Linked DNA regions of Homo sapiens: region 1 is linked to region 2. The links come from fine-mapping of genetic effects on gene expression. A gene starts in region 2. The other region holds a variant in brackets. All regions are shown on one strand. Distances are between the middles of the regions. Region 1 holds the start of LOC124905149 (a long non-coding RNA gene). Region 2 holds the start of MAPK8IP2 (mitogen-activated protein kinase 8 interacting protein 2).

Region 1 (14,947 bases), 37 kb before region 2:
CCTGGGCACAGGAGTGGGAGAGAGAGCTTGGGGACCAGGCTGCCCTCCTGAGAGAATGCCACAGTGGTGGGCATGAAGGAGTCCAGGGAGCAGGATTCCAGGTTGGGGAAACAGCAAGCTCAGTGGCCGGAGGCTGGAGGATGCCTGCAGCCAGCCTGGGCAGACAGCTTGAGGGCACTATATCAGAGACAAAAGTGACTCAATGACCCTTGTTAAAGCACAGTCAGGCACACTTCATTCAGGACCATCACCAGAGGTATAGAGACCACTGGAAGGGGAATTGGCAGCGGGGGAGAAAGACTGGACTCAAACCCAAATACAGCCTGGGTAACTGGGAGTTTATAGCCAAGGAGCAGGGTGGGGGCAGGAGATGTTAATGTACTAAGGGAAAGCATCAGGTGTGAAGAGGATTCTTGCTGAGGACAGGCCAGAGTGACCAACATCACCTGCCAGGTGGTGGAGGGTGAGGAACCTGACCAGATATGATTGCAACCGCCTTTGCAAAACTGCGACTGAAGCAGTGAAGGAGATCTAACATCTAACATCTAACCAGCTCCATCCTGCTTCTAGCCTTTAAGCCATGCTTGTTCCTCCATGGGCGCAGGTTGAACTAACTTTGGGAGGAGCTTGGTTTATAGTTGACAGTTTAAAACAAAGATGAACAGCCCTTTCCCCAAACAAACCTCTTTCTTCCCTGCGGACTAGTCTGCCTTTATAGGACTAACAAATTAGCCACAAGATTACAAATTATGGTTTAGGAGTCATGCTGCTGGAGGCTGCAAGATTCTGATCTTCCCTAAACTGCTCCTAAGTAAGAACAGTGCAGATTCTGATCCTCCCTAAACTGCTCCTAAGTAAGATCAGTGCAGATTCTGATCCTCCCTAAACTGCTCCTAAGTAAGATCAGTGCACATTCTGATCCTCCCTAAACTGCTCCTAAGTAAGATCAGTGCAGATTCTGATCCTCCCTAAACTGCTCCTAAGTAAGATCAGCGCAGATTCTGATCCTCCCTAAACTGCTCCTAAGTAAGATCAGCGCAGATTCTGATCCTCCCTAAACTGCTCCTAAGTAAGAACAGCGCAGATTCTGATCCTCCCTAAACTGCTCCTAAGTAAGAACAGCGCAGATTCTGACCCTCCCTAAACTGCTCCTAAGATCAGTGCAGATTCTGACCCTCCCTACACTGCTCCTAAGATCAGTGCAGATTCTGACCCTCCCTAAACTGCTCCTAAGATCAGTGCAGATTCTGACCCTCCCTAAACTGCTCCTAAGATCAGTGCAGATTCTGATCCTCCCTACACTGCTCCTAAGATCAGTGCAGATTCTGATCCTCCCTAAACTGCTCCTAAGTAAGATCAGTGCAGATTCTGACCCTCCCTACACTGCTCCTAAGATCAGTGCAGATTCTGATCCTCCCTAAACTGCTCCTAAGATCAGTGCAGATTCTGACCCTCCCTAAACTGCTCCTAAGATCAGCGCTTGAGGTATTTGCAGACCCTGCGCTTGATGCATCAGTTGGCACCACCCAGATCCATAAACTGGCTCATCTGATCCTGTGGCCTCAACCCAGCAGCTGACTCGGCACAAGAGGACAGCTTCGGCTCCCCATGATTTTGTCTCCAACCCAACCAATCAGCATTCTCAACTCACTGGCCTTCCCCCACTCACCAAATTACCCTCAAAAACTCTGCTCCCCGAATGCTCGGGGAGACTGATTTGAGTAATAATAAAACTCTGGTCTCCCATACAGCCGGCTCTGCGTGAATTACTCTTTCTCTATTGCAATTCCCCTGTCTTGATAAATCGGCTCTGTGCAGGCAGCGGGCAAAGTGAACTCACTGGGTGGTTACATAAAGGGTGATCAGGTCCTTACTAAAACTGGATTTTACAAGGAAGTGCACAGATGGGCTCCGGAGAAGGTTCAGGAGCTGCCGTCTGCCCAAGCAGAGAAGCTTTCATTGCCACACAGCAGCTACCTCACACCTGCCACGGTTCTTGTGGGCAGTGGATTCCGTCCTCATCTGCTCAAGACTGTGCCCCCAAGCCGGGCGCAGTGGCTCACGCCTGTAATCCCAGCACTTTGGGAGGCCGAGGTGGGCGGATCACAAGGTCAGGAGATTGAGACCACCCCGGCTAACACGGTGAAACCCCATCTCTACTAAAAAAATATTAAAAAATTAGCGAGGCGTGGTAGCGGGCTCCCGTAGTCCCAGCTACTCAGGAGGCTGAGGCAGGAGAATGGCGTGAACCCGGGAGGCGGAGCTTGCATTGAGCCGAGATCACGCCACTGCACTCCAGCCAGCCTGGACGACGCAGCGAGACTCCGTCTCAAAAAAAAAAAAAAAAAGGGCTGCCCCTCTTTCTGGGAACCTCCTGCCTTCCTCTCCCTGCCAGTGGGTTCCACAAGAACCTCCCAGTCAGTACCTGCCACCCCCTTGGCCAGGTCATGTATCTGCCCAGCTGGGACCAGCAGAGCCCTTTCAGAGTTGGGACCAACCAGAGGGCCTCAAGGTGGTTGATGGGACAAGGATGGAGCAGGCCCACAGGGGTGGGGAAGATGAAGGCCACCAGGGGGCCTAAGGTGGATCCCCATGTCAGCAGGTCTCATGAACTGCTGCAGAATCCCTCCACTCAGGCCACGTGTTCCCGCTGAAGCAGCTCAACTCCCCACCCTCCCCATGCAGAGGCTTCTTCCATCCCTTGTCCAAGGTGCAAAAAGACAAGACCCATGCCCCTCATTTCAAGGCCCTCTCCTGACTGTGGGTGTTAGTCCCAAATTAGCAATGCCCCAGGCGTCCAGAGCCACTTCCCGAACCCCAGCAGGCTGCCTCCAATTGGGGCTCTGTCAATGCAGAAAAAGAACTCACATCTCCAAAAGGCAGGATGGCCTGCAGAGCTTGGCTTTGAACAAACATAGCTGGCAGCACACACATCCCCTCCTCCAGGCCGGGAGGTCAGGGCTGGGCCGAGGCAGCTGTCACGTGGGCAACCCCTGAGCGGCCTCCAGAGCCCAGGGGGAAGGGGCCACCATTTGCGTAACACTACAACCCTAAGCAGGCTCTTCTCGGGAAGAAGGGGCCGGTCCTGGGGTAGTTCCCAGCTTCCAGTTGAAAGAGAATAAAGTGCCTTTGATTGTCTCCTTTTAAACTCCAATTCACAGCGCCAACCAGCTGCGATAGCTCCAATTACAGGTTCAAAGATTTCTGGGCCACCGAGCAGCTTTCTGTTCTGGCTCCAGATGGAAGCACCAGCAGCGCACCCCTGCCCCCAGCCCCGCCACACACAGGCACAGACACCACACTGGAATGTAACATCAAGGGGCTCGCTGGCAGAGACTGGCACCTCCTGCTCTCCACAAGGTCAGCAGCAGCCTCAAGCCCAGCCCCTTCCCACCCCATCTCTGGGAGTCCCTTCAAACTTTGCTCCCACATGGCCTCTATCTTGGAGCTTTCATGTTTCCTCAGGAAAATGCCAGCTCCCCACACACAGCTGGGCTTCAGTGGAAGTCGAGTCCTGAACCCTCACCCTGGTCCCCAGAGGCTCTTCCAGAGCCCTGTCCACCTTCCCACTGGCTGCAGGGTCAGTGACCAGGGAAAGCGCTTCCCATCAGGAGACCAGGTCCTGCTCCTCCCCGAGGGGCAACCTGAGCTTGTGGAGAAACGCAAGGTCAAGGAGCTGCCCTGGGGAGCCACCCTAGGAGGGGCCACCCTGAGGGAGCTGTCCTGGGGACACCTGCAGTGGAAACTGTTCAGGGCAGGGGCTATGGAGAGGGATACCCTGGCAGGGCCCAATTACTACAGCAACCTTGGGGCCCTCAGCCACACAGAATAAAATCCTCACCGAAGCCCCCTCTGGGGCTCTCTCTTACACTGATGAGAAAAAGAAGTAGCTCAGAGCAGAGTCGGAACTAGGCGGGGTGTACGGCCAAGAGGGATGAGTGTGGGGCCTCAGTAATCCCACACTTCTGCAAAAATGGCTGGGGACAATTGTTTCAGGACGCTTTGTTCCAGACCAGCTGCCTCACCATTATCTTCATGTTCTTGGAATTTGTGACACAACGAACAATGTAGGCCGGGTATGATGGCTCACACCGGTAAATCCCAGCTACTCAGGAGGCTGAGGCACAGGAAATCACTTGAGCCCGGGAGGCGGAGGGCACAGTGAGCACTCCAGGCTGGGCAACACAGCGAGACTCTGTCTCAAAAAGAAAGAACAATGTATAGCCAATGTTATCTGTTTTTGTTTTTTCTGTTTTGTTTTTGAGACGGAGTCTCACTCTGGCACCCAGGCTGGAGTGCAATGGCGCAATCTCGGCTCACTGCAACCTCCACTTCCCAGGTTCAAGCAATTCTCCTGCCTCAACCTCCCAAGTAGCTGAGATTACAGGTACACGCCACCACACCTGGCTAATTTTTGTATTTTTAGTAGAGACAGGGTTTCGCCATGTTGGCCCAGCTGGTCTCGAACTCCTGACCTCAAGTGATCCACCCGCCTTGGCCTCCCAAAGTGCTGGGATTACAAGCGTGAGCCACCGCGCCCAGCCACCTCTTTTCCTTCGAAAAACTACTGTAACTGTTGCCAATCAGAGTGTATATTCAGGGCAAATAGAATCTCTGCTCCCAGGTTGCAATCCTCAAGCTTGGCCCAAATAAACCCTCCGCTCATGTTAATGTTGCTTCAGCTTCTTTCTTTTAGGTCAACGTTCAGTACGCGTCTGTCATTTCCATTTGACTGTTAAACAAACTGGAGACTATAGAGGCCAAGGGAAAACTTGCCCTCTGCCCTCAGGAGATTCACGGAAAATCAACTGACAAAGTAAGAGAAAAGGCATACAGATTTATTCATGCACACAGGGAGAACCAGAGTGATGACCCCAACCTCCCAATGGGGTTCGGAAGCTTATATACCATCTTGAGGTTACAGAAAGAACATGGGCTCAAAGTATGGCCACAGTTTATGGTGGAAAATCAGGTGACCAGTGGCAAGACCGGTTACAGGAGGGAGAGCAGAGGAGGCCTGGCTAGCAAAGGTGGCCTTGTTCTACAGATGAAACCTCACAGGTAGCAGCCCTGAGAGAGAACAGATGGTGAATGTTCCCTTCAGGCCTTTAAAGGCGTCAGACTGTTACTCTTCCCAGATCAGGCAAGGAGGGCCTCAGAGGAGGCCTGGCCGCATCAGTGTAGATTCTCTCCACAGATGCAAATCTCCCCCACAAAAGACAGCTTTTCAGCTATTCTTCTATTTCCAGTCCTTCTGAGTAACTGTCTTGAACCGTGTCAAGGAAATATTTTTGTTGTTGTTGTTTGTTTGTTTTGAGGCAGAGTCTCACTCCGTCACCCAGGCTGGAGTGCAGTGGTGCAATCTCAGCTCACTGCAACCTCCACCTACTGGGTTCAAGTGATTCTCCTGCTTCAGCCTCCCTGGGATTACAGGCATGCACCACCATGCCTGGCTAATTTTTGTATTTTTAGTAGAGACGGGGTCTCGCCATGTTGGCCAGCCTGGTCTCAAACTCCTGACCTCAGGTGATCTGCCCACCTCGGCCTCACGAAGTGCTGGGATTACAGGCGTGAGTCACCATGCCCAGCCATGGAAATACATTTTGGGGCGAAATATTTTGGTTTCCTTCAGTCCCCACTTTGAGACTTTCAGAAAGTTGCCCATATAAAAAGAAAGTTGATAGCTTTGAAGAGATTTGAGTTAGAGGTTGTTAGATAAGAGACAGGCAGAGGCGGGCAAAAAGAAATTGGGATAAGCAGAAAAAGACAAATTTAAATGTCATCCTGGCAGGGCACAGTGGCTCATGGCTGTAAATCTCAGCACTTTGGGAAGCTGAGGCAGGAGGAGCACTTGAGCCCAGGTGTTCAGACCAGCCCGGGCATCACAGGGAGACTCTATTGCTACAAAAAATAAAAAATTAGCCAGGCATGGTAGTTTGTGTCTGTGGTCCCAGCTACCTGGGAGGCTGATGCAGCAGGATGACCTGAGCCTGGGAAGTCAAGTCTGCAGAGAGCTGTGATCACACCACTTTGTGGGTGAGTGAGTGAGACCCTGTCTCTGAAAAATAGATATGTATCATGCCATATTTTCTTGAATCCGTCTCTTAGTCCTGAGACTAGATCAGCTCAGTTAAACAGCTGTATCCTATTCCAAGAAGTGGCATTGCAGATGGGCTGGGACCTCGTATATAATTCACACAAACAGATCTTTAACAAGATACAATTCTATGGAAACAGAAGAAAAAAAACGGTGAATGTCTGGTGTCATCCATAGACTAGCTTTTCTAGCTCTCCTCAATCTGAGGCATCTGGAGCATCTTCAGATTGCAATGGCAATTTGACAGATTTTTCTGGATTGTAGTTCTAATTGGGTGTTCAAGTGAACTTTCTGAATAGTCCATATATCAACAGGCACAAAGGCTATTTATACATAAGTCGCTGTGATGATTTCTCCTGAAGATTATAAGTAATTTAGCTTCAGTTGCAGGGCTTCAAGAAAAGCCATTTTAATTTCCAGTGATTTTAAATCAGAAAAATGGGAGAAAAACTGGAAAGCATTAGTTTAGAGACTTGGAGCTAGGAAAGAATGCAGGATTCAGTTCAAACTATAGGCAAATGATAACAACTCAAAAACAAGTCAGTCCGGACTCTCGTAACAGGTGTCAACAGTCAGTCCGGACTCTAATAACAGGTGTCAACAGTCAGTCCGGACTCTAATAACAGGTGTCAACAGTCAGTCCGGACTCTAATAACAGGTGTCAACAGTCAGTCCGGACTCTCCTCACGGCAGGTGTCAACAGTCAGTCCGGACTCTAATGACAGGTGTCAACAGTCAGTCCGGACTCTTGTGACAGGTGTCAACAGTCAGTCCGGACTCTCGTGACAGGTGTCAACAGTCAGTCCGGACTCTAATAACAGGTGTCAACAGTCAGTCTGGACTCTAATAACAGGTATACTATAGTTTTCTTCTAAAACATATTTTTTCTCTCTCCAGTCTCCCTTTTCCACAAAAGACAAATCAGAGTAAGAACAACTGATTTACAAAATAAGTTTTAGTCTTATTATAATTGGCCTGATTATTTGCATAAAGTACAGTAATAATAGTGACTGGCCATTCAACCTCTTTTAAAGTTGGCTTTGCCAGAACTTTTTCATAAGGAATCTCAGATTAGACTTTTAAAAGCATCTTGAGGCCGGGCATGGTGGCTCACGCCTGTAATCCCAGCACTTTGGGAGGCCGAGGCGGGCGGATCGTGGGCTCAGGAGATCAAGACTATCCTGGCTAACACAGTGAAACCCCATCTCTACTAAAAATACAAAGAAAATCAGCCACGTGTGGTGGCGGGCGCCTGTAGTACCAGCTACTCAGGAGGCTAAGGCAGGAGAATGGCATGAACCCGGGAGACGGAGCTTGCAGTGAGCCAAGACCGCGCCACTACACTCCAGCCTGGGCGACAGAGCGAGATCGGTCTCAAAAAAAAAAAACCAAAAACCAAAAAAAAAAAAAAAAAAAAAAAGTACTTGTCTGGGTACTTTACATGAGTTTCCTTGAGGAAGAAGCAAGTCTTGAACTGTAGCTAATTATAAGCTGCTTTTTAAAAAGAATCAAAGTAAAACAGTAATTGACTGTGGATGACAGATGACTTAGACTAATGATGGTTACAGATGCAATTCACAAGGAGATTTGTTTTTTTGTGTGACATACAACAATTTAACATAATAATTATAATTTTGAGCCAGGCGTGGTGGCTCATACCTGTAATCCCTGCACTTTGGGAGACCAAGGCAGGAGGGCTGCTTGAGCTCAGGAGTTCGAGATGAGCCTGGGTGGCACAGCAAGATCCTGTCTCCAAAATAATAAATAAATAAATAAAGACAGCATGAGGCAAACTCTCTACTCCTCCTTTTTTTTTGTGAGACAGAGTCTCACTCTTGTTGCCCAGGCTGGAGTGCAGTGGCACAATCTCAGCTCACTGCAACCTCCGCCTCCCGGGTTCAAGCGATTCTCCTGCCTCGGCCTCCTGAGTAGCTGGGACTACAGGCAGGCGCCACCACGCCTGGCTAATTTTTGTATTTTTAGTAGAGATGGGGTTTCACCATCTTGGCCAGGCTAGTCTCAAACGCCTGACCTCAGGTGATCCACCCACCTCGGCCTCCCAAAGTGCTGGGATTACAGGTGTGAACCACCGTACCGGGCCTACTCCTCCTTTTCTTGTAGTTTACTCAAAAGGTAAACAAAAATCTTTTACTGTCTCTTATTAATACTACATGAAAATCTTACTCAAAAATGAAAACTAAATTCTACCTTTACATTAGCATATTATTAATACTAAAGCTAATTTTAATAAAAACTTAAAAACAGATCCATTCAATCTCAATCAGCTTTGACCACATAAGATTTCCATAAACCTTTAATAACCTCTTAAAATTTGTTCCATTCTTTGTTTCTCAAACTTTCTATATATATTCAGTTTTATCTATCATTTTTTTATTCCTTTAATTTAAAACAACCTTTAAAAACATCAAAACTAGACAAAATTACTTTTCCTTTAACAAAAACCTCATTCTCATGCCTTCTTTATAACCTTCCTTACCAAAAACACATCCTACTTTCTTATAAACTTTGCATACAGAAGTGTTTCTCTTATATCTAGTAGTTTTAAATACATATATTAATTACAATGTTAACTCTTAGGAAGCCTAATTTTCAGTGAAAAACATGGGAAGTAAGCAATTTTAATTGTTATTAAAGATGCAAAGCCCAGGACAAAGGACAGAGCTTTAAAGACTGATATGGTTTGGCTGTGTCCCCACCCAAATCTCATCTTGAACTGTAGTTCCCAAAATCCACAGGTGTTGTGGGAGGGACCCAGTGGGAGGTGATTAGATGAAGGGGGCGGTTCCCCCACGCTGTTTTTGTGCTAGTGAGTTCTCACGAGGTCTCATGGTTTCATGAGGTGCTTCCCCACTCTTCGCTCTGCACACCTCCTTCCTGACCTCATGTGAAGAACGTGTTTGCTTCCTCTTCCGCCATGATTGTAAGTTTCCTGAGGCTTCCCAGCCACGCTGAACTGTGAGTCAATTAAACCTCTTTCCTTTACAAATCACCCAGTCTCAGGTATGTCTTTATTAGCAGTGTGAGAATGGGCTACTACAAAGACAATGCCTGGAGGACTCAACCCCTCCCAGCATGACCGGGGGGCACAGCTGGGCCAGGGAGGACAATGCTCGGGCACTGCAGACACACAGCATGACCGGGGGGCACAGCTGGGCAAGAGAGGACAATGCTCGGGCACTGCAGACACACAGCATGGCTGGGGCGCACAGCTGGGCTAGGGAGGACGGGGCTCAGGCACTGCAGACACACAGTATGGCCGGGGGGCACAGCTGGGCTAGGGAGGACGGGGCTCGGGCACTGCAGACAAACAGCATGACCGGGGGGTACAGCTGGGCCAGGGAGGATGGGGCTTAGGTACTGCGGACACACAGATGTCTCCAGGCCACATCATGTCCACTTGTCTTGACCCCAGAATGTAGAGGCTCAAAGCCAAAGACCTAAGTTCACAGACAAATTAAGCAAGTATCAGAAATATGACAGAAGCAAATTTTATGACCTTAAAGCATCTAACAGAGACTGTCTGAACCTGTCCGACCAATGGGCCCAAGCAAAGATGTCTCAATTATATTTAAGACTGACGACTTTGAAGATATTCTAATTTTAGCATCATTTTTTTTTTTGAGATGGAGTCTCACTCTGTCACCCAGGCTAGAGTGCAGTAGTGCAGTCTCGGCTCACTGCAACCTCTACCTCCCAGGTTCAAGTGATTCTCCTGCCTCAGCCTCCTGAGTAGCTAGGACTACAGGCGCATGCCACCACGCCTGGCTAATTTTTGTATTTTTAGTAGAGACGGGGTTTCACCATGTTGGCCAGGATGGTCTCGATCTCTTGAC[C/A]TCGTGATTTGCCCGCCTCAGCCTCCCAAAGTGCTGGGATTACAGGTGTGAGCCACTGCACCCAGCAGCAACAATTTTAAAACTAAGTTTATTTGCCAAAGATTACTAGTCACATGAACTAGAAAAGCATCTGGGTTTAGTTACATCATTCATGAGCACTTATTTATTTATACGTCAATTTGCTACTATGTACATAATATACAAACAGGCATGTACACATAAAAATACAGACACAAATCAAGATTTTATAGCTTTAGTTTTAAGATTTTAGCCACGAATCGGGTAAAAATCACTAGTTTAAAAGGATACTTAAAATTGTGCCTCTGTAAATGGAACAAGGTAAAATTTATCTGTCTCACACGGCCAAAGCCCTTACCAAGTTTTAGAGAAAACAAGGCAACAAATTTACATCTTGAAGCACAGAGAAAAAAAAATTATTTTTATTTACTGAATTTTTTCAAGACGGAGTCTTGCTCTGTCGCCCAGGTTGGAGTGCAACGGCACGATCTTGACTCACTGCAACCTCTGCCTCCTTGGTTCAAGCAATTCCACAGGGAGAAAGTTTAAGCTTTGATTTAGTATGTTAAAGGAAGATTTTAAATGGATGCTGAGGTAACAAAAAGTCATAGAAATTCACCACAGGATTTTATAAGGACAACAATGTTATTTAAATATGTGGCTATTAATTTATTCTCCATTTTTGAACTAGACCACTGGGCTCAGGACAGAGCTCATTAATGAACATGGCCAAAAAAGCATTTGCAGTTTGGAGGACCTAATATTTAAATATGTGAAAAACAGGTGCAGCTGGAAGGCAGAGCATCTAGATCTTTTAAAATCAAGGATCCCACATTTACACTGAATGCTGAGTTCCCTCTAAAAAGAGATATATATGAGACAAAGCCATACAGTGTTTCCACAGTGTACCTCACTATGAAGACATTCCCCTGAGGCTGGTGGGAGACCCACAGCAATCAGCCCACGGAGTCTCAGCCTTTGACGCCAAGTGCTTCCATAGTCTCCAAGTGTTCAGATTGTGCCTTTCTCATCTAAACATGCAGAGAAACAAGCAGCCACTGCAGGAACAACCATTCACTACAACTGCTTTCAGCCACCTCCAAAACTGTGAGGCAGCCCTCGCCAGTGACCTGCCGGCCATCACACACACTCAGGTCATGCACTGTCTCACAGTGCAACGTAATCCCTGGTACCCCCAAAGCCAAAGAGATCCAGTGACACAGTGCCAAAGACAGCCAAGCTTTAGACCCGAGAGGAAGCTACCCACGACTCCTCAGGCCCCATAAGGAAGACAAAAGCGGGGCGCGTGGCACCTTTCTTTGCGTTCCCCAAGGGGTCTCTAAGTCATCAGAAGTCCCTTGTAGATCCCTTCATTAGGTACCAAAGATGGCAAAGGGGATGGAGGAGCACGGAGGGGTAGAAGTAAATGGGACTGCAATCCTTAGAGGAGCCAATTTGGAAAAATGTTAAGGTTCTAAAAGGCCAATACAATTTTACATTTTTCTCATCAAAATTATACCAACAAAGGAACCAAACAGAAGGACCAAACACACAATTTAAAGGGGTTTCAGTCACCTGAAAAAAAAATTCCCAGAAACAGGGTCCAAAAGCAGAAAAGGCTGTAGATACATGGCTTGAAGATCAGCTCACCTGTTTTTAATTAAGCCAACTTCTGACCACAGAGCTCTTTTTTAAAATCCTTTCAAATATCTTATTATCAGATTTTAGCTGAGACCAACAGCTGATAGCCATGGCTTTGAGACCTTTTTTTTTAAAACCAAAGGTACCTCCCAAGTGACTCACCAAAACCAATAAGCCTTAACTAAAGCTATGGACTTAACCAAGGACACATAAGCCATCTCCAAAGAGGCGCAAAGCAGTCCTGATGACATCCAGAGCCACCCCAAAGAGCTCAAAGAAAGGAAATCAAAAGCTGCCAGTGGAGGGGGAAAGGGTCAACAACAAATGAGTTCCGCACAAAGTCAAAAGTTGGCTGGGTGCGTGGCTCACGCTGGTAATCCCAGCACTTTGGGAGGCCGAGGCAGCCGGATCACAAGGTCAGGAGTTCGAGACCAGCCTGGCCAACACGGTGAAACCCCATGTCTACTAAAAATACAAAAAAAAAAAAGAAAAAAAAAGAAAATTAGCTGGGCGTGGTGGCTCACACCTGTAATCCCAGCACTCTGGGAGGCCAAGGCGGGAGGATCACGAGGTCAGGAGTTCGAGACCAGCCTGGCCAACATGGTGAAACCCCATCTCTACTAAAAATACACACACACAAAAAAATCAGCCGGGCGTGGTGGCTCACACCTGTAATCCCAGCTACTCCAGAGGCTGAGGCAGGAGAATTGCTTAAACCCAGGAGGCAGAGGGTGCAGTGAGCCAAGATCATGCCACTGCACTCCAGCCTGGGCGACAGAGCAAGACTCCGTCTCCAAAAAAAAAACAAAAGAAAGAATTCAAAAGTCACACAAATATCAAACCAAAAGGGACTGGTTCCTCTATTGGGAATTGAACCCAGGCCATGGTAGTGAAAGTACAGAATTTTAAGTAGTTTCCAAGATGCAGCAGTCTTCATTGTGAATCCTGCAGGGATCCAAAGCAATGGTTTGCGCGCACAAAGGATTTTAACTTGTTACAGGTCAGATTTTTGCTCTTTAATTTTGTGAAGAGGATTTCTAAGGCTAGCCACAACATTATTATGTGTCTTTCCTTTAATCTCCCCACAAATACAAATAAGGCAATTGTTTAGAATGAGAGACCTCTAAAATCTTTTTTTTTTTTTAATTTAGGGATCTTTCTAATGTAAAGGATTCATCTTTTGGCTATTGACAATCAGAATTTCCAATGATGTATTTATTCCAATAGCAACTCAATCCAAGAAGCCCCTTCATGGAAAGCCCAAAAGATTATTTTCCAGGTTTAGAGAGGGCATAGAAGAGGAGGTTCCAATGATGCCCCCAAAATTCACTCCCAGGAATAGGCAAAGACAGCAAAAGACTCTTGTTCCCAGAGACAGTTAAGGAACGTGTTTGTACATACAGTGCCTCCAGTAACACACAATCTGTCAGGGGCTGCCAGTCACAGACCCATTAACCTGTAACACAGGGTAGGCCTGTTGGGATTGGGCTTTCTGAGGACTGACCAGGCAACAAACATTGGGATGACAAAAGCCCCTTATGGATGGGCCTGAGGAGAGCAAAAACCACCTGGCGACCATCAAACATCAAACAGGCCCTCCGAGGCAAAACTCCTTATCTGGGGAAAATCAAAAGTAACTAAACCTCCCTATTATCTAAAGCAGGCATCTGGTTCCAGATTTCTTCCCCCAAAAAACGTGTAAGTAACTATAATTTCTATGTGTCTCCAGAATACCATGACGAAACTCACTGTACAACCGTCGCTGACATTAAGGCACCAAAATTACTATAAATGTAATCATTTATCATGACTTACGTGGCTAATATGGTCCAAATTACTGTTAAGCCTCCACTTTAAGGCCTATAAATGCCCTTAAGGAGAAATCCACCCGGCGTACTCAGTCCTCTTGCTGAGGCACCTCATTGCACTCTTCTGCAGCATTCTAATAAACTTTCTTTCTTTTCTTTTTTTTTCTTTTTTTTTTTTTTGAGATGGAGTTTCACTCTTGTTGCCCAGGCTGGAGTGCAATGGTATGATCTCAGCTCACCACAACCTCCATCTCCCAGGTTCAAGCGATTCTCCTGCCTCAGCCTCCCAAGTAGCTGGGAATACAGGCTCCCGACACCATGCCCAGCTAATTTTTTGTATTTTTAGTAGAGATGGGGTTTCATCATGTTGGCCAGGCTGGTCTTGAACTCCTGCCCTCAGGTGATCCACCTGCCTCAGCATCCCAAAGTGCTGGGATTACAGGCGTGAGCCACCGTGCCCGGCAAACTTTCTTTTTTCTTTTTTTTTTTGAGACAGTCTTGCTCTGTCTCAGCTCACTGCAACCTCCGCCTCCCAGGTTCAAGCAATTCTCCTGCCTCAGCCTTCCAAGTAGCTGGGATTACAGCCACGCACCACCACACCTGGCTAAGTTTTATACTTTCAGTAGAGACAGGGTTTCTCCATGTTGGCCAGGCTGGTCTCAAACTCCTGACCTCAGGTGATCCACCCACCTTGGACTTCCAAAGTGCTGAGAGTACAAGCATGAGCCACTATGCCCGGCCAAACTTTCCTTTTTCAAACCTATTGTCGGTAAACTCTTTTTACCAACCCGCAAGTTGACCACCACTCCCAGTGCCGGGGCTCTGACAGCTCGCCTGGCAGGGACTTCTTAAGACAAACTAAAAGCTTGACACATTCAGAACAAAAACGGTGCTGCTTAAAATATTAAATGTCTTGGGTTCCCAACCATTTTCAGACTGACCACAAAATGTGACCTGCGAGTCACTACCTCGGATTGGCAGAGGCCAAGAGAGTGCTCCTGAGGTAGGAGGTGGGACTTAGTTGACCCAGTTGAGGATTGGCTAAAACAGGGTTGGGGCAATAGCAGCTTTCAGTCAGATATGCCCGCCACTGTGCCATGTCAGTTTACCATTGCCATGGCAACACCCAGGAGTTGCCACCCCTTTCCATGGCAATGACCCAATGATGACTACTCCTTCCCTAGAAACTTCTGCATAAACCATCCTTTAATCTACATGCAATCAAAAGTGCGTATAAATGTGACTGCAAAACTGCCCTGAGCTGCTACTCTCAGCCTACGGGGTGGCCCTGCTCTGCAGGAGCAGTCACAGAGCTCTAACGCCACCTGTTCAATAAAGCTGTTTTCTTCTACCTCTGGCTTGTCTTTGAATTCTTTCCTGGGCAAAGCCAAAACCCTCACTGGCTAAGCTCCACTCTGGGGTCTGCCTGGCCTGCATCATTCCCACTCGCTCACAACTCAAGCTTTCAAGGACATCAAAAGAGAGGAGAATCTCATCCAGTTTTCAGTTCAGGGACCCACAGCAAAGTC
Region 2 (14,947 bases):
CTTCCTCTAGGGTGCTGGGACACAGAGGGCAGGGGCCTGTGCCTGGAGGGAAGCTGGCAGCCCCCCTTGGCCTGCTGCTCCTATGCCAGCACCTCCTCCTCCCCTCCTCCCCTCACCCTGCCTGGCCATTCCCCTCTCGTCTCAGTGATCTACCTGCTCTGACCTGGTATCTTCCCTCCAGGTCTCCCTCCTAAACTCCAGACCCATGGGACCAACGGCCACTTCAGTCTCACCGTTTGTGATTGATCCCGCATCCCCTCTCGGTGTGTGGGCTGCAGTACAACCATCCCCCAGGGAGACGTCACCCTGGTCTCTTCCAGGTCACCCTCTACAGCCGGTCAACCTAGGTCCTGCCTGTACTGCCTCTTCAGTGCCTCTTGCATCTGCACACTTGGTCTCAGGACATAGCACCTGTATAACCTCAGCAGCCCCCAGGTCCCCTGTGTCACCTCCTTCCATTAGGAGCCTTCTATGGCCTCATTACCAGCAAGATTAAGTACAGCTCCTTGGCATAATCAAAAGGGTCCAGGTCTTCCCCGGCATTTCTAGCTGCTCCCCTTACACGCGGGCCCCAGAGCCTATATAGCCCCCGACCAGTGCATCCCACACCCTTGGCTCAGCTAGACCCCACCAGGAAGATCCACTTCCCCACCGCTGTCACCTGCTGTGTTTCCAGGCTGGCCATCCTGAGCCCCAGGCCCACTCAGGCGTCCTCTGCACCCACACAGGCTTCTCACATCCTTCGCCCGTGTGCCTCTCTCCACCCAGACTGGATGCAAGCCTGTCTGACCCACGCCTCCTGAGTCCAGCTCAGAGCAGGCGCCACTGCAGGCTCAGCTCACAGAGCTAAGTGGGTGCAGGTGGAGCTCTCAGGGCTGGGCACGGGCAGCCCTCAGGGTCTGTGGGGACTCAGGGGGCGGTTGGACTCTCAGGGTTTGTGGGGGCGGTTGGGGGACTCGGGGACGGTCAGACTCTCACCAGCTGTTGCGGGGATGGCAGCCGCAGAAGGAGATGTTCTTCATCTGGAAGAAATGGCTGCAGCGCTGGAACTAGAGCAGAGGTGGGCAGAAGTCCCTGTGTCAAAGGAGGCCTGGCGCCACCCCTGCCTCCCACCTACTGGACACCCCTGCCAGCCTGGCCCCGTCGGACTCCGTGGCCTAACCCTATCCCCCAGTCCCCGGTCCCCAGTCCCCCACACTCCCACCTCGGGCCCTCCTCCGCTCAGACTCAGCTTGACCCCCCGAAGAGAGATCTCGAGGTCACAGGAGGCAGGAGGGCGCAGGTGGACGGTCAGTTTCCGGGCAGTGGCAATCTACAGAAGAAGTTGGGGGAGAAGAGGGTCTTGAGGAGCCCACAAGGGCCTTTCTTTCCCCTTGGTGGGACTACGCCTCTGCTCCTTTTAGCTTATGTTTGAGGACACACATGCTGAGGACCCTGAGATGCAATTCTGGAAGACATAAGGGGTGTGGCCTTGGCCACTCCTCAGGCTCAGGAGGAGCAATCGCCTCTCTGCAGTCAGCTTGCTTCATCTTCCTTCTGCTCCTCCAGGCAGGCTGCTGCGCTTGGCTCAGGAGCCAGGAACAGAGACCTCACCCGCCCTGGGCTGCTCTGCCCTGCTCCCTACTGCCCCCCAGCCTCAGCCTCAGTACTGGTGCCTGGGCAGGTGCTCACTAAACGTCCACTGAGTGAGTGGATGAGTAGAGGGCTCCCAGGGAAGGGGCTGTGAGGGCTGGTCTTGATTCCAGATGGGAAGAGGAAGGGCTGATGGCAGTCGGGGCCACCTGGAAGATCTGTGGCCCAGAGACCCAGAGGTGATGAGGGACAGCTGCTGTGCTCTGCCCTAGACTCACCTGCTCAGGCCTCTGAACCAGGGCCTGGGGTACCCACCCCGAGCTCCCCCTGCAGCATCCCCCAGACCCTCCCTGGAGGAAATCAGACCTCAGACCTTGGAGCCTCAAGCCCTGTGCCAGCCTGCAGTGCTGGTGTGGCCGCCAAGCGGACCCTCAGCCTGCACTTGCCCGGCCTCCACACTGACCTTCTGCATGGCTGCACACAGGATGCCGTTGCCCTGGTGGCAGGGCACCTCCACGGAGCCCAGGAACTGCACGTCAAAGCGCTCCACCCAGCAGGGGCTCCGCTTACTCCCTGGGGAGCGGGGCACAGAGGGCCCAGGTCAGGCAGGGGCACAGGGGAGGATCTGGGGTGAAAAGCCTCCCCTCGGGGTTGGGACCTCACCCAGCAGGTCCTTGGCAGGGCCGGGCACCGCATGGGCGTAGAAGGCAGGAAACACACCGCGCTCCCCCGTGCGCATGTTGAAGCCACGGAACCAGAAGTCGTCCTCCTCGGCCTCCACCAACACAGGGTCATCCACATCCAGCTCCAGCTCGTCTGGATGCCGCGGGATGAACCTGCCGTTGGGGGAGAGGTCACTGGGGAGGGGGGCGGGATTGACGGTCGTGTCCACTGGCGTTCCGTGATGGCAGGGACTGAGGCTGGGGCCACCGCCAGCAAGGAGGGAGGCCGTACCTGAACACAGCCCGGTGAGTCTGCTCTCGCTCCTCGCCGTTGACCAGACAGGAGAAAAGGCCAAAGGACTCGGTGCCTGGGAGACCCGGCAGGACAGAGGCGGGGGAGACAGGGAGACAGAGTCAGAGTAGTGCTTAGAGGCCTGGCCTTGGGCAGAGGCCAAGTCCCCTCCACAGTCCGGTGTAGGTGTCCTACGAGCGGGAAGGAGCTGAGGCAGAGCAGGCCACCTCATGCCATGTCCTGGGTGGGAGAGGGCACCCAGCCCTGACCACAGCCAGACCCTCAGGTGGCCCTGGGCACTGTGGGGGACCCTGGGACTGGGGCCAGGGAGTCTGCACCTTCCTCTGGGCCACCCCCCTTTTCCCCACCTCTCACTCACTGGAGGACCGAGATGTGCTGTTGACGAAGACATTGAGGAACTTCTTGGAGAAAGTGAGGTCAGGGCTGTCCGGCGAGGTGTCCCCCGAGACCTGACCGCCGCCTAGCAGCGCCGCGCCCGCCTCCTCCTCGCTGGCCTCCCCGCCGCTGTCCTCTTCGCTGTCGTGGCCCAGCCCAGCACAGCGCCGCAGGCTCACCAGCTCCAGCTGCGTGTGCTCATCCACCACCAGCGTGTACTTGACCGCGTCGTACACCAGCGACGCGTCCCGCGGCGCCGAGGGGCCCGTGCCCCTGCCCCCGGGGGACCCCGCACTGTCCTCGGCATCCTCCTCTTCCTCGTCGTCCTCTTCGTCCTCCTCCTCGGAGCAGGCGGCGGAGCAGGCTCGTCCCGGGCGGGCGGCGCGGCCGGGCGCGGCCCACAGCGGCGTGATGGTGTCACGCGTGGGGTTGCTGAGGAATAGGCAGGGCCCGGGCTGCGCGGGGCCGGGTCGAGGCGCGGCGGGCGCGGGCGGCGGCGGCGCGCACAGCGTCTCCATGTCCACCAGCTCCACGCCGCCGGGCCCCGCGGCCGCCTCGGGGTCCTGGGAGTCCTGGGCGGCCCCGCCGGCCGGCGACACGGGCTCCCCGGGCGGGCGCGGCGCAGGAGACAGGCACTGGCCGGGGCAGCGGATGGGCGAGGAGCCCTCGGAGATCATGCGGCTCACCAGGTTGCTGAGCAGCCAGGGCGAGTCCGCGTCCTCGCTGAGGTCCGGCTCCGACTCCGACCCCGACTCGTACTCGCTGTTGGTGTCGTCGGGGCCCACGGGCAGGAAGGCGGGGCGGCGCGGGGGTTCGCGCGGGGGCTCCGGCTCCGAGGCGGGCGACGAGGCCTCCTCGATGGAGTTGGTGAGGTGCGAGGAGCGGCCGCTGCTGCTGCTTCCGCCATCGCTGCTCAGCTCCAGCTCCGTCTCCGAGATGGACGAGATCATGCGCCCCAGGCGCGCGCCGCCCGCGTCCTCCGAGTCGGAGCCGGGCGAGGACAGCTCCTGGCTGCTGCGACGTCCCCCGCGGCCGCCGCTCGAGCGGCTTCTCAGGTCAGCCTCGATGCCGGGATCTGAGGAGGGCGAAGTCCCCCCTGGCGCAGGGGGTTCCGCAGGCCGGTTCCCTTCGCAGTCGCAACCCGGGCGCACTGGCGACTGCGCCCCGCCGGGCCCGGTGTCCGTGGCAGGGAGGGGGCCCGGGAGCTCTGCTGGGCAGGGAGGTGGGGTCACCCTCTCTGCACCACCCAGGCCTCTTCCAGCAGCCAGTCCATCCTCCCTGCCCTCCTCCCCCGCTTCCCCGCGCCCCGCGGGCCCACCACCCCTCACCTCTGAGGGCCTCCGGGGCGGGTGAGCATAGCGCTGTCTCCTGCCAGGAGGCCGGACGCACCAGGTCAAAGCCTCCGTTGTTGTTTAGGGAGTCCTGGGGTGGAGATACATGACGGCGGTCCTGAGGAGGGCCAGCTCCCAGGGGGTGAGCAGGGCTGGCTGCAGCCCAGGTGCTATGAACCCAGGCTCAGCTCCAGGGAGCTGTGGGTCCGGGCACTCACCTGGGCCCCCAGTGTGGTCAGACGGAGGGTGGTGGGCCGGTGCTTGTGGGGCTCCTCCACGGAAGGGGAGGGGATAAGGGGCCCGGGGGCAGGTGCCTCTGAGCCAGGGTCTCCTCCCTCCTGGCCTTCCCCATCTCCCTCCTCCTCCTCCTCCTCCTCTTCCTCGTCCTCATCGTCCTCCTCTTCATTGTCATCGATCATCTCAAACTCCTGGAAGTCATCCTGGAAGGAGCAGATGGGGTGCGGCTGCTCCGAGCGCCCCAGGGAGAGGCTGTCCTGCAGGACGGAGGGAGATAGCAGGGCTGGGCCAGAGGGCAGCAGTAGCCCAGGGGCCCAGGTGCTAGGAGAAGGGAAATCGGGGAGCATCAGTCAAAGGAGAGCCCCTTCCAGCTCACTCTGCCCCTCTGTCTACAGGGCGATGTTTTCAAAATCTGCCTAACACACATTGGGATCACTCCAGTTCTTGGGAAGGGCCTAAACTCTACAGCTGAATGACAGGGATTCTCAGAGCAGCCCCAGCCCCACTTTCAGACTCATCTAACTGCAGAACCCCATCACATTTGACACCAGCACTGTGTTCCCTTCGCAGCGTTTTAACACAACTTACAGTTACTGGACATGGTTTTTGGTCTGTTGCAAGCCCCACCAGGGCAGGGTCATGTCCATGTTATGCACTGTTGCACCCGCCCCCAAGAACAAGACCTGGGGCTCAGCGGATGTTCAGTAAACATCAAACAGATGCAGAAATGGAGAGACAGCCTCTGCACTCTGAGGATTCACCAACTTTGCGCCAACCCCAGGGCCATTGGCACAGTTATTCCCCATGCTGGCACTTCCTCTCCTCCATTCCCTCCTACCTACCCCATCTGCCTGGCTCTGCTAACCTCAGGGCATGGTTGACATTTCCTCTGGAAATTCTCCCTGATTCCTTCAGTGTGGATTGGGTTCCCTTCCCCCTCGTGGAACTTATGTCCCTGTTGGAATGCAGCCCTTGACACGTGGGCAGCCATTGTCCCTTACAAGTCTTTCTCCCCTACTAAGTTGCAGCTCCAGAGAGCAGCTGTCCTGTTCCACTCCCAGCACCCAGAAGCCCCCAGTACTTGCCACATGGCAGTTGCTCAGAAATGTTCTTCAATAAATGAAAGCAGAAATGTGGAGAGACAGGGAGGAGGAGAAGCAAGAGATGGACGAGAAAAGATTTCAGCAGGGGGAGACATGAAACAGACAGATGGGAGCTGCAGACGAGGGCACAGGGCTGCAGAGGGGACAAGGTTGTGATGGCAGCTGCCAGGGATTAGATCTTTCTGGGAGTGATCTGAGGACAGAGGGCACCCAAAGCAAAGGAGCACCTCCCTGCCCCGGGCTGGCCACCGATGGGGTCGGGGAGAATGCTGGGGAAGGCCCTGCGTGGAGGCCTGCAATGTGTTGGAATAAGAGAGAGTTGATACCAAGGAAACCTCAAGGGTTAAGTGGGGAGGAGCCATCAGAGGAGTCCCCGGTTCAAGGCTGAGCTCACACCCACCCTAAAACCCCAAGTGAACGCTAAGAAGAACCTAATGAGGCCCTCCCTTGAGCTGGATCTGTGTCCCCAACTCTTCTCCCACCTTCTCACAGTGGTCTGAGTCGTAGCTGAGGCCCAGGCCACAGTCATCAGTGATCTCAGACAGATCTTCGTCGTCAAATTCTTCCAGGCTTATGTCCTGGGGAGGCCTGGAAAGGAGACCAGGGTCAGAGAGCCACCAACCCTGGACTCCCTGCCTGGCAACTGGCCCTGAGGAGGGGCAGAGGGAGGCGTCAGCTCCTACACCCAGTGGTTTCCACAGCCCCCAGCTCTCGGAACACATCCTGCCATCATCTTGACCCCCAAGCTCTGCTCGCCTGTGGATCCCCTCCCCCATCTGAGCCAGGCCTGCCCGGAGGAGCCAACCCTGCCCCCACCCCTCCCACCCCGCCTCCCTGGAGAGCCAGCAGCCTCTCCTCCCTCCACTCGCAGCTCCAGGCCCCTGGGGTCAGGGTCTTGCAGAGCAGGGGAGGGGGAGCTGCAACGCGGCAGCGGCAGATGGGGAGGGGTCGCTCCTGCTCTGGGAAGAGAGTCTGGCCTGTTTGTCTCCCCCTCTCCGGCGGAGTGAGGCCTAAACCCAGAGGCCCAGCGTCCTCCCAACCCCAGTCCCTTCCCGCAGGGCTCCGGGCTTGATTTCCACTCTCTCCCGGCCGGGCCCTATCGGCCAGGTCTGGCGTCCACTGAAAGAGGCCAAGGCCACCGGGACACGCCGCGCCGGGAGGGTGTGCCCGCATCCCGCCCGCATCCTCCCCCGCAGAGGGTCGGCCCAGGGCCTCCACCCTTGACAGGTCAGCCGTCCAGGCCGGGCGCGGCTCAGAATCCCGGCGGGGCCCGGGGGTCACTGAGGCTGGGGACGCGCGGTGAAGATGGAGGGAGTGGGAGCGGGGTGGGGGTGGGGCGCCCGAGCCGAGGCTCAGGGACCGCAGGGGGCCGGGGCCGGGTCCGCGCCGGCGGCGGGGCTGGGGCGGCGGGGACGGGGGTCCGGGCCGGGTCGGGGTCGGGGGGGTGCGCAGGGAGCGGAGGGTCCGCCCGGCCCGGGCGCCGAGGGGGGTACCTGCAGCCCGGCGGCGACAGCGAGTGGAAGGTGGAGAGAGAAAACATCTCCGCGCGATCCGCCATCTTCTCCGGGAGAGGCCCGCGACTGCGGCGGGGGGTGCGGGAGCCTCGCCGCGCCCCGCGCCGGCGCTCGGCCCGCCCCGCTCACCTCGTGACACGCCCTGCGGCGTCCGCCCCGCGCACCTCGCCCGGACTCCGCGGCGGCGCGGGGAGGGCGGCGGGGGAGGCGGGGGAGGGACGCGGCCGGGGACGCTGGTTGGAGGAGAGGCGGCGGCTTCACTGCCGGGCGCTGGTTGGGGAAGGGCCGGGCGTGCGATGAGGATTTTTCCCGGGGAGGGGCGGGAGGGAAGGGGCGGGCGGGTGGGCGTCGGGCCCCGCCCTGGAGGACCCGCGCGGGGCGGGAGGCCGAGGAGGCAGCGCCGGGGTCCGCGGGCCTCGGGTTCGCCGTGGGCTGTTTCCTCTGGGCGAGAGGCCGGGGCGGCCCCGGGAGCTGCGCCGCCGCGCCCAGGATCCCCCCAGGAACCCTAACCCGGGTGCGGCCCGGAGCGGGGTGGCGGGCGAGGCGGGAGGCGCGGGAGGAGCTGTCCGCCGTCGGGTGCTGATCGGAGCTGTCCCCACGGGGTGCTGACCGGGGCTGCACGGGGACGTCTGCACGAGGGTCGCCGAGCAGGGCTGGATTCAGAATCGAGCACAAGGTACTCAGAGGATGCTGGCTGGGGCTAAAAGTGGACTTTGAGCACTCAGTAGAGACTGCACAGCCGGACGGACGTACCGACGGGCACTGGGAGAAGTTAGCACCCACGGAGGCGACATGCGTCCCACTGGAAACACTTTTTCTTGGGCACCGTGTTGCTGGGCCCTGTGTAGGGAACTGACCCGCTCTGGCTTGGGATGGAGCCCTGTGGGGAGGGCCATGGTTGAAGCTGAGCTCGAGACGGTGGCTGTGGGAGGAGGCGGGAGATCAGGGTTGAGGGCGCAGAACTAGGGAGAGACTGCAGGACACTTTTTTTCTTTCTAAAATAGAGACCGGTGGCTGGGCGCGGTGGCTCACGCCTGCAATCCCACCACTTTGAGAGGCCAAGGCGGGTGGATCACGACGTCAAGAGATCGAGACCAGAGACCATCCTGGCCAACATGGTGAAACCCCGTCTTTACTAAAAATACAAAAAAATTAGCCGGGCGTGGTGGCGGGCGCCTGTAGTCCCGGCGACTTGGGAGGCTGAGCCAGGAGAATCATTTGAACCCGGGAAGCGGAGGTTGCAGTGAGACGAGATTGCGCCACTGCACTCCAGCCTGGCAAGAGCAAGACTCCGTCTCAAAAAAAAAAAAAGAGAGAGAGAGAGACCGGCTCTCTCTGTATTGCCCAGGTTGGTCTCAAACTCCTGGGCTCAGCTATCCTCTGGCCTCAGCCTCCCAAAGTGCTGGGATTACAGGTGTGAACCACAGCACCTGGCTAAATATTGGCTAAAGAAGGAGGCTGGCATTTCAACAAAAGCGCAATCCCTTTTCCCCCTTGATGAAAGTTATGTGCCCTAAGATTTCTTTATGTCTTAGTTCTGCGGAAAATTCTTTTTTTTTTTTTTTTTTTTTTTTTTTTTTTTTTTTTTGAGACAGAACTTGCTCTGTTGCCCAGGCTGGAGTGTAGTGGCACGATCTCAGCTCACTGTAACCTCCACCTCCCGGGTTCAACCGATTCTCGTGCCTCAGCCTCCCGAGTAGCTGGGATTACAGGCAATCACCACCATGTCCGGCTAATTTTTGTGTTTTTAGTAGAGATGGGTTTTTGCCATGTTGGCCAGGCTGGTCCCAAACTCCTGACCTCAGGTGATCTGCCCTCCTTGGCCTCCCAAAGTGCTGGGATTACAGGCGTGAGCCACCGCCCCTGGCCTGGAAAATTATTCCTTAGGAAAGGACAAGGCACTTGAGTGACAAACACCAGAAACGACATGGCAGAAGGAGCTCATGCAAGTCGGGAAGGGGGGTATCACCATTCCAGCTCAGAGAGAGGCCTGTGGCCAGGGCCTGATTGAACCTGCACTCTTTGGTGTCCCATCACAATTTATATTTTATGCCAATTACAGTATTTTTCTAAGAATGGCATTTACTTGGCTGGGCACAGTGACTTACACCTGTAATCCCAGTACTTTGGGAGGCCAAGGTGGGTGCGTCACTTGAGCTCAAGAGTTTGAAACCAGCCTGGAAACATGTCTCTACCAAAAATAAAAAAAATTGGCCGAGCCCAGGAGGCAAAGGTTGCAGTGAGCTGAGATCACACCACTGCATCCAACCTGGGGGGCAGAGTGAGATCCCATCTCAAAAAAAAAAAAAAAGCCATTTACTAGTTTATGCTTGCCTTCTTGACTTGGGTTGGCTGGAGAGAAGAGAGGCTGTCATCTCTCTGTGAAGCCCTAGGCTCCAAGCATGGTGCCTGGCAAACAGTAGGTGCTTAGCAGACATGTGAATGAATGAATGAGAGAGCTTATGGTCTCTAACCCAGTCTGGGGCATCAGGTCTTTGCCATAACAGTCTTTTCCCTTTTAGAAGCACTAAGAACATTCCCCATTTCTGAGGGAGTCTGGGCCTATTAACCACTCCCTGCCTTTCCCAAAAAATCCAGATCCCTTCCCAGATTTCACAGAGAGTTTGACCTCAACTTTCCAGATTGGCTTTTGATCCTGAGTCTTTTCACCAAACTGGTTCATCTGGACATCCACATAAATGACCCATCCAATACCCTGGTCAGTCAGTTCCTTGATTTCTGATCTGTCAACAGTCTTTAATACTCAAGTGTAGTGACCTCTCCCACAAAGTGCCTCCAGGATCTACCTTCATCTGGAATTGCAGCAAGCTTAAAATCTTTTTTTTTTTTTTTTTTTTTGAGACAGGGTCTCACTCTGTCACCCAGGCTGGAGTGCAGTGGTGTGTCCCTAGCTCACTGTAGCCTCAAACTCCTGGGCTCAAGGAATCCCCCTGCCTCAGCCTTCTGAGTAGCTAGGACCACAGGTGCACACTACCATACCTGGCATTTTGTTTGTTTTTGTAAAAACAGGGTCTCACTATGTTACCCAGGTTGGTCTTAAACTCCTGGGCCCAAGCCCAGGTGATGGCCTCCCAGAGTGCTGAGATGACAGGCATGAGCCACAGCATCCAATCTGAAGTCTTATAGTCTCAAATTTCATCTTAGATCCTAATCCCCAAAACCTTCCTCAAGCCTCTCCCCTTCCTTCCCTCCCTCTTAAAAGATGGTCACTCCCAGGTCCCATGAGCGTAAAGACCATGAGATGGGGGATACCGCCCGCAATTTTATCTGTGGACCTCCCATCTTGCCCCCAGAGCACAGATGGAAGATCGTCGGCCTTAAAGTCTGAAATACGGGAGCCACTCTTCATTTTGCACCAACTTGTTGAACGTGGGCAAATTACTCAGTTCCTCGAGATCTTGGTTTCTTCCTCTGAGCAATGGTGCTGCGAGGACCACATGTCGTGGTGTAAGCCCCAGACACAGGCCCTGTTGTTTGTTGGTGATCATTTAAGGCTCACCTTTCCCCTGCTCCTCACACCGGGGACATGTCCTCCCAGTCCCCCAGGGCTGCTCTGTGCAGCTCAGGGATACATTAGTGAAAAGGCAGCAACTCTTTCCTGAGGGGGTTTATGCTCCTTACATCATGCACATTTTATCAAATTTGCACCTTCCTTGTGTGCTCCTCAGAGCATCATTGTATGGATGAACAAATGGGGGTCCACAGGGAGCTGAACATCCCTCCTTGAAGTTCCTCCTCCAGCCTCTGGGCCACAGGCACTGGGTTTTCCTTCCTGACCACCACCCGTTGTCAGCGTCCTTCCAGACTCCTTCTCCTTCAATGACAAATCAAGATGTTGTGACGCGACCATTTTAACGCTTTCTTCCCTCTATGGTGCACGAATGGCATAGACATTACAAAGCACAAAATTGATTGGACTTAGAAGGGAGAGTTGGAATCGCAACAGCTTCCACAGTCCTGACCACAGCAATTCTAAAAAGTCAGAGAACATTTTCTGACAACTTTCTGAGAGATTAGAAAACAAATGCAAACTATCAGTATTTATTGTACTCATATTTCACAGAAATCACAAACACAAAATAAATATGCCAATGGTTAAAACTGCAAACAGACACATTTAATAAAGATGAAAATTAAGAGTTCTACCTTCACCATGGTGAAGTCCTAACGCCACCATTTCCCGAATCTTCATTTTTATGCAGCCAGGTCTCTGATCACTACCTCCTACTTTTCTTGGTCTCTTGCTGCATTACTACAATACCCACTTTTTTTTTTTTTTGAGACAGGGTCTTGCTCTGTCACCCAGGCAGGAATGTAGTGGTGCAATCTCAGCTCACTGTAACCTCTGCCTCCTAGGTTCAAGCAATTCTCCCACTTCATTCCTCAGAGTAGTTGGACTATAGATGTGTGCCACCACACCTGGCTAATGTTTTTATTTTTTGTAGAGACAGGGTTTCATCATGTTGCTCAGCCTGGTCTCAAACTCCTGAGCTCAAGCAATCCACTCACCTCAGCCTCCCAAAGTGCTGGGATTACAGGCGTGAGCCACTGTGTCAAGCCTTTTTTTTTTTTTTTAACTCCATAAGAAATGTGCTTCAATTACTATTACTGTGTAACAAATTATCCTCAAATTTAGTGGATTAAAACAATTAAGTTGTTATTTACAATTGTTTGTTTTGAGGGTGGAAATTCAGGAAGGACTCCAATGGGAAGTTCTTGCCTGGGTCTCTTTTGAGGTTTGGTTGCAGTTGGAGGTAAGCCTGGCTCGAGGTCTGAGATGGTTCATTCAGAAGGTTGGCAGTGGATGCTGAGTGTGAGCTGGGGGCTCTGCTGCGGCTGTCACCAGCATATCCACTGGGCTCTCCTGCATCGTGGTCTCAGGGTAGTTTCTTTTCTTTTCTTTTTTTTTTTGGAGACAAGAGTCTCGCTCTGTCACCCAGGTTGGAGTGCAGTGGTGTGATCTTGGCTCACTGCAACCTCCACCTCCTGGGTTCAAGTGATTCTCCTACCTCAGCCTCCCGAGTAGCTGGGATTATAGGTGCCTGCCAGCACGCCCAGCTCATTTTTTTTTTGTATTTTTAGTAGAGGCGGGTCTTCGCCATGTTGGCCAGGCTGGTCTGGAACTCCTGACCTCAGGTGATCCGCCCACCTCGGCCTCCCAAAATGCTAGGACTACAGGCGTGAGCCACCGCACCCAGCCAAGGGTAGAGTTTCTACATGATGGCTGGTTCCCATCAGAGTAAGGATCCTTGGAGGGCATGCCCTTTTCTGGTCTAACCTTGTAAGTCCTACAGCATCACTGCTGCTGTGACTATTGGCCAAAGCAGTTGCAAGCCTACCCAGCTTCAAGAGGGGGGTCACAGACCCTACCCCTCCATGGGAAGAGTGTCAAAGAACTTAGGAGCTGTGTCATAAAACCACTGCAAATCTGCAGTCCATGTGTCATGAAACCACCACAAACCTCCAGTCCATGTGTCATAAAACCACTGCAAATCTCCAGTCCACGTGTCATGAAACCACCACAAACCTCCAGTCCACTGAACCTCGCTCTTTCCTCAATGTCCACTCAAGTTTCTTACCTGACATTAACCCTCTCAATCGTCAACTTGTCCTTCTCTTCTGGATCATTTCCATCAGCAAACAAGCATAACCTATGTTAAAGAAAATGGTAATTCTCACCTGATGGTACAGGACATCCAAAATCATGGCATTTACAACATTGTTATGCCTTAATGAAAGTGACAGTAGGCCGGGCACGGTGGCTCACCCCTGTAATCCCAGCACTTTGGGAGGCCGAGGCAGGCGGATCACAAGGTCAGGAGATCAAGCACAATGGCTAACACGGTGAAACCCCATCTCTACTAAAAATACAAAAAATTAGCCAGGCGTGGCGGCAGGCGCCTGTAGTCCCAGCTACTCGGGAGGCTGAGGCAGGAGAATGGCATGAATCTGGGAGGCGGAGCTTGCAGTGAGCCGAGATCACGCCACTGCACTCCAGCCTGGGCGACAGAGCAAGACTCTGTCTCAAAAAAAAAAAAAAATCCTTCTGGTTTAAGAAAGAAATCTCACACATAATTATACCTTTCAGAAAACAGATTTCTATCAGTGCAGAAGATGATTATAACATGCATCAGTTGAAGTTTTTAAATAGATTGCTACTATCAGGAATTTTTTTTTTTTTTTTGAGACACGATTTTGCTCTGTCGTCCAGGCTGGAGTGCAGTGGTGCAATCATAGTTCACTGCAACAACCACCTCCCAGGCTTAAGCCATTCTCCCTGCTTCAGCCTTCCAAGTAGCTGGGACTACAGGTGTGTACCACCACACCCAACTCATTTTTGTATTTTAGTAGAGATGGGGTCTCACCATGTTGGCCAGGCTGGTCTCGAACTCCTGAACTCAAGTGATCCGCCTGCCTCGGCCTCCCAGAGTGCTGAGATTACAAGCATGAGCCACCACGCCTTGCCAGGAAATTTTTTAAATCTCTGAAATCTGAATGTCTCACTAGACTCCTTCATAGAACGTACATGCCCAAAGACACTTTTATAATAACTGAAAAAACAACAGGATTATACACTTTCATGAAAGTCTTTGCACTGCAGCAGAGTCATAGCCCCAAGGAGGACAGCACTGCAGCCTCGACAAATCTCTCTCTGACATACAAATTTTGGAGAGTTTTCCATTTACTGCGATGAGCACAAAGGGAACAGGCCCAGCAAAGCATGCCAGGAGCTATCAAGCTGCAGAATGTCTGGTGAGCGCTTCCCAGATTTCCCCAGTTCCTCCCAAAGATGCACTAAAGTTGGTGATGACAGGGCTCTGCCTGACAGGGAGACTCCCTGATAGGTTGCTGGAGACCCTGAACAGAGATTTACCAAGCCTTTTTTGGCGGGGGGACGGAGTCTCGCTCTGTTGCCCAGACCGGAGTGCAGTGGCGCGATCTCGGCTCACTGCAAGCTCCGCCTCCCGGGTTCACACCATTCTCCTGCCTCGTCCTTCCAAGTAGCTGGGACTACAGGCGCCCGCCACCGCGCCTGGCTAATTTTTTGTATTTTTTAGTAGAGATGGGGTTTCACCGTGTTAGCCAGGATGGTCTCGATCTCCTGACCTTGTGATCCGCCCACCTCGGCCTCCCAAAGTGCTGGGATTACAGGAGTGAGCCACCGCGCCCGGCCGGCTATCAGGCCTCTTACACCCACAAACTTGTCATCTTGGAACTCCCAGCATAATTACCTAATTTGATTAACAAAAACTGTCTTTTTTTTTTTTTTTTTTTTTTTTGAGATAGGGTCTCACTCTGTCACCCAGGCTGAAGTGCAGGGATGTGATCTTGGCTCACTGCAACCTCCGCCTCCTAAGCTCAAGCAAACCTCTCACCTCAGTCTCCCAAGTAGCTAGGACTACAGGCACCCGCCACCATGCCTGGCTAATTTTTGGTTTTTTTTTTTTTTTTTTTTTTTTTTGTAGAGACAAGGTTTCACCATGTTTTCCAGGCTGGTCTCCAACTCCTGGGCTCAAGTGATCCACCCGCTTCGGCCTCCCAATGTGCTGGGATTACAGGCGTGAGCCACCATGTGCAGCCTCAAAAGCTGTCTTCATCCTCTGGATCTAATAGCTAAGTTCTAAGTACAATCTTGCTACACGGGCCGCAGGATAAGAGACCGGGCAGCTGGCAGGATGGCACTTCTTCCCTCCCCTGCCTCACTTTCTCACCCACCCACCTTATTTCCTGCAGCTTCAAACAAACTCCTTGCATGTGAATCCTCGTTTTAGCTACTTCTTCTGAAGGAATCCAATCTAAGGCATCCTGCTAATTGTGA

Evidence for each region. PIP is the estimated chance that this variant, and not a neighbour inherited with it, causes the effect.
Region 1: its variant is the best candidate, but not a certain one, in a credible set for the expression of MAPK8IP2 in subcutaneous fat (GTEx, PIP 0.71).

Annotation. Positions count from the first base shown.
Region 1 is chr22:50,630,151-50,645,097 of GRCh38, reverse strand. LOC124905149 (a long non-coding RNA gene) reads right to left here and starts at 13,604. Exons shown (of 2, transcript XR_007068161.1): 1 at 10,400-13,604; 2 at 9,092-9,555. RefSeq lists enhancers at 744-1,243, 1,244-1,745, 2,467-3,031, 8,805-9,319, 9,320-9,836 and 1 more. The variant C/A (reference allele first, on the strand shown) is at 9,952.
Region 2 is chr22:50,593,023-50,607,969 of GRCh38, reverse strand. It overlaps MAPK8IP2 (mitogen-activated protein kinase 8 interacting protein 2), which reads right to left and starts at 7,177. Exons shown (of 12, transcript NM_012324.6): 1 at 7,087-7,177; 2 at 6,076-6,181; 3 at 4,472-4,747; 4 at 4,251-4,344; 5 at 2,906-4,129; 6 at 2,527-2,602; 7 at 2,236-2,408; 8 at 2,036-2,145; 9 at 1,205-1,312; 10 at 979-1,049. The coding sequence starts at 7,151. CHKB-DT (CHKB divergent transcript) reads right to left here. Exons shown (of 4, transcript NR_110536.1): 4 at 12,689-12,779. RefSeq lists an enhancer at 6,298-6,798 and a silencer at 7,588-7,767.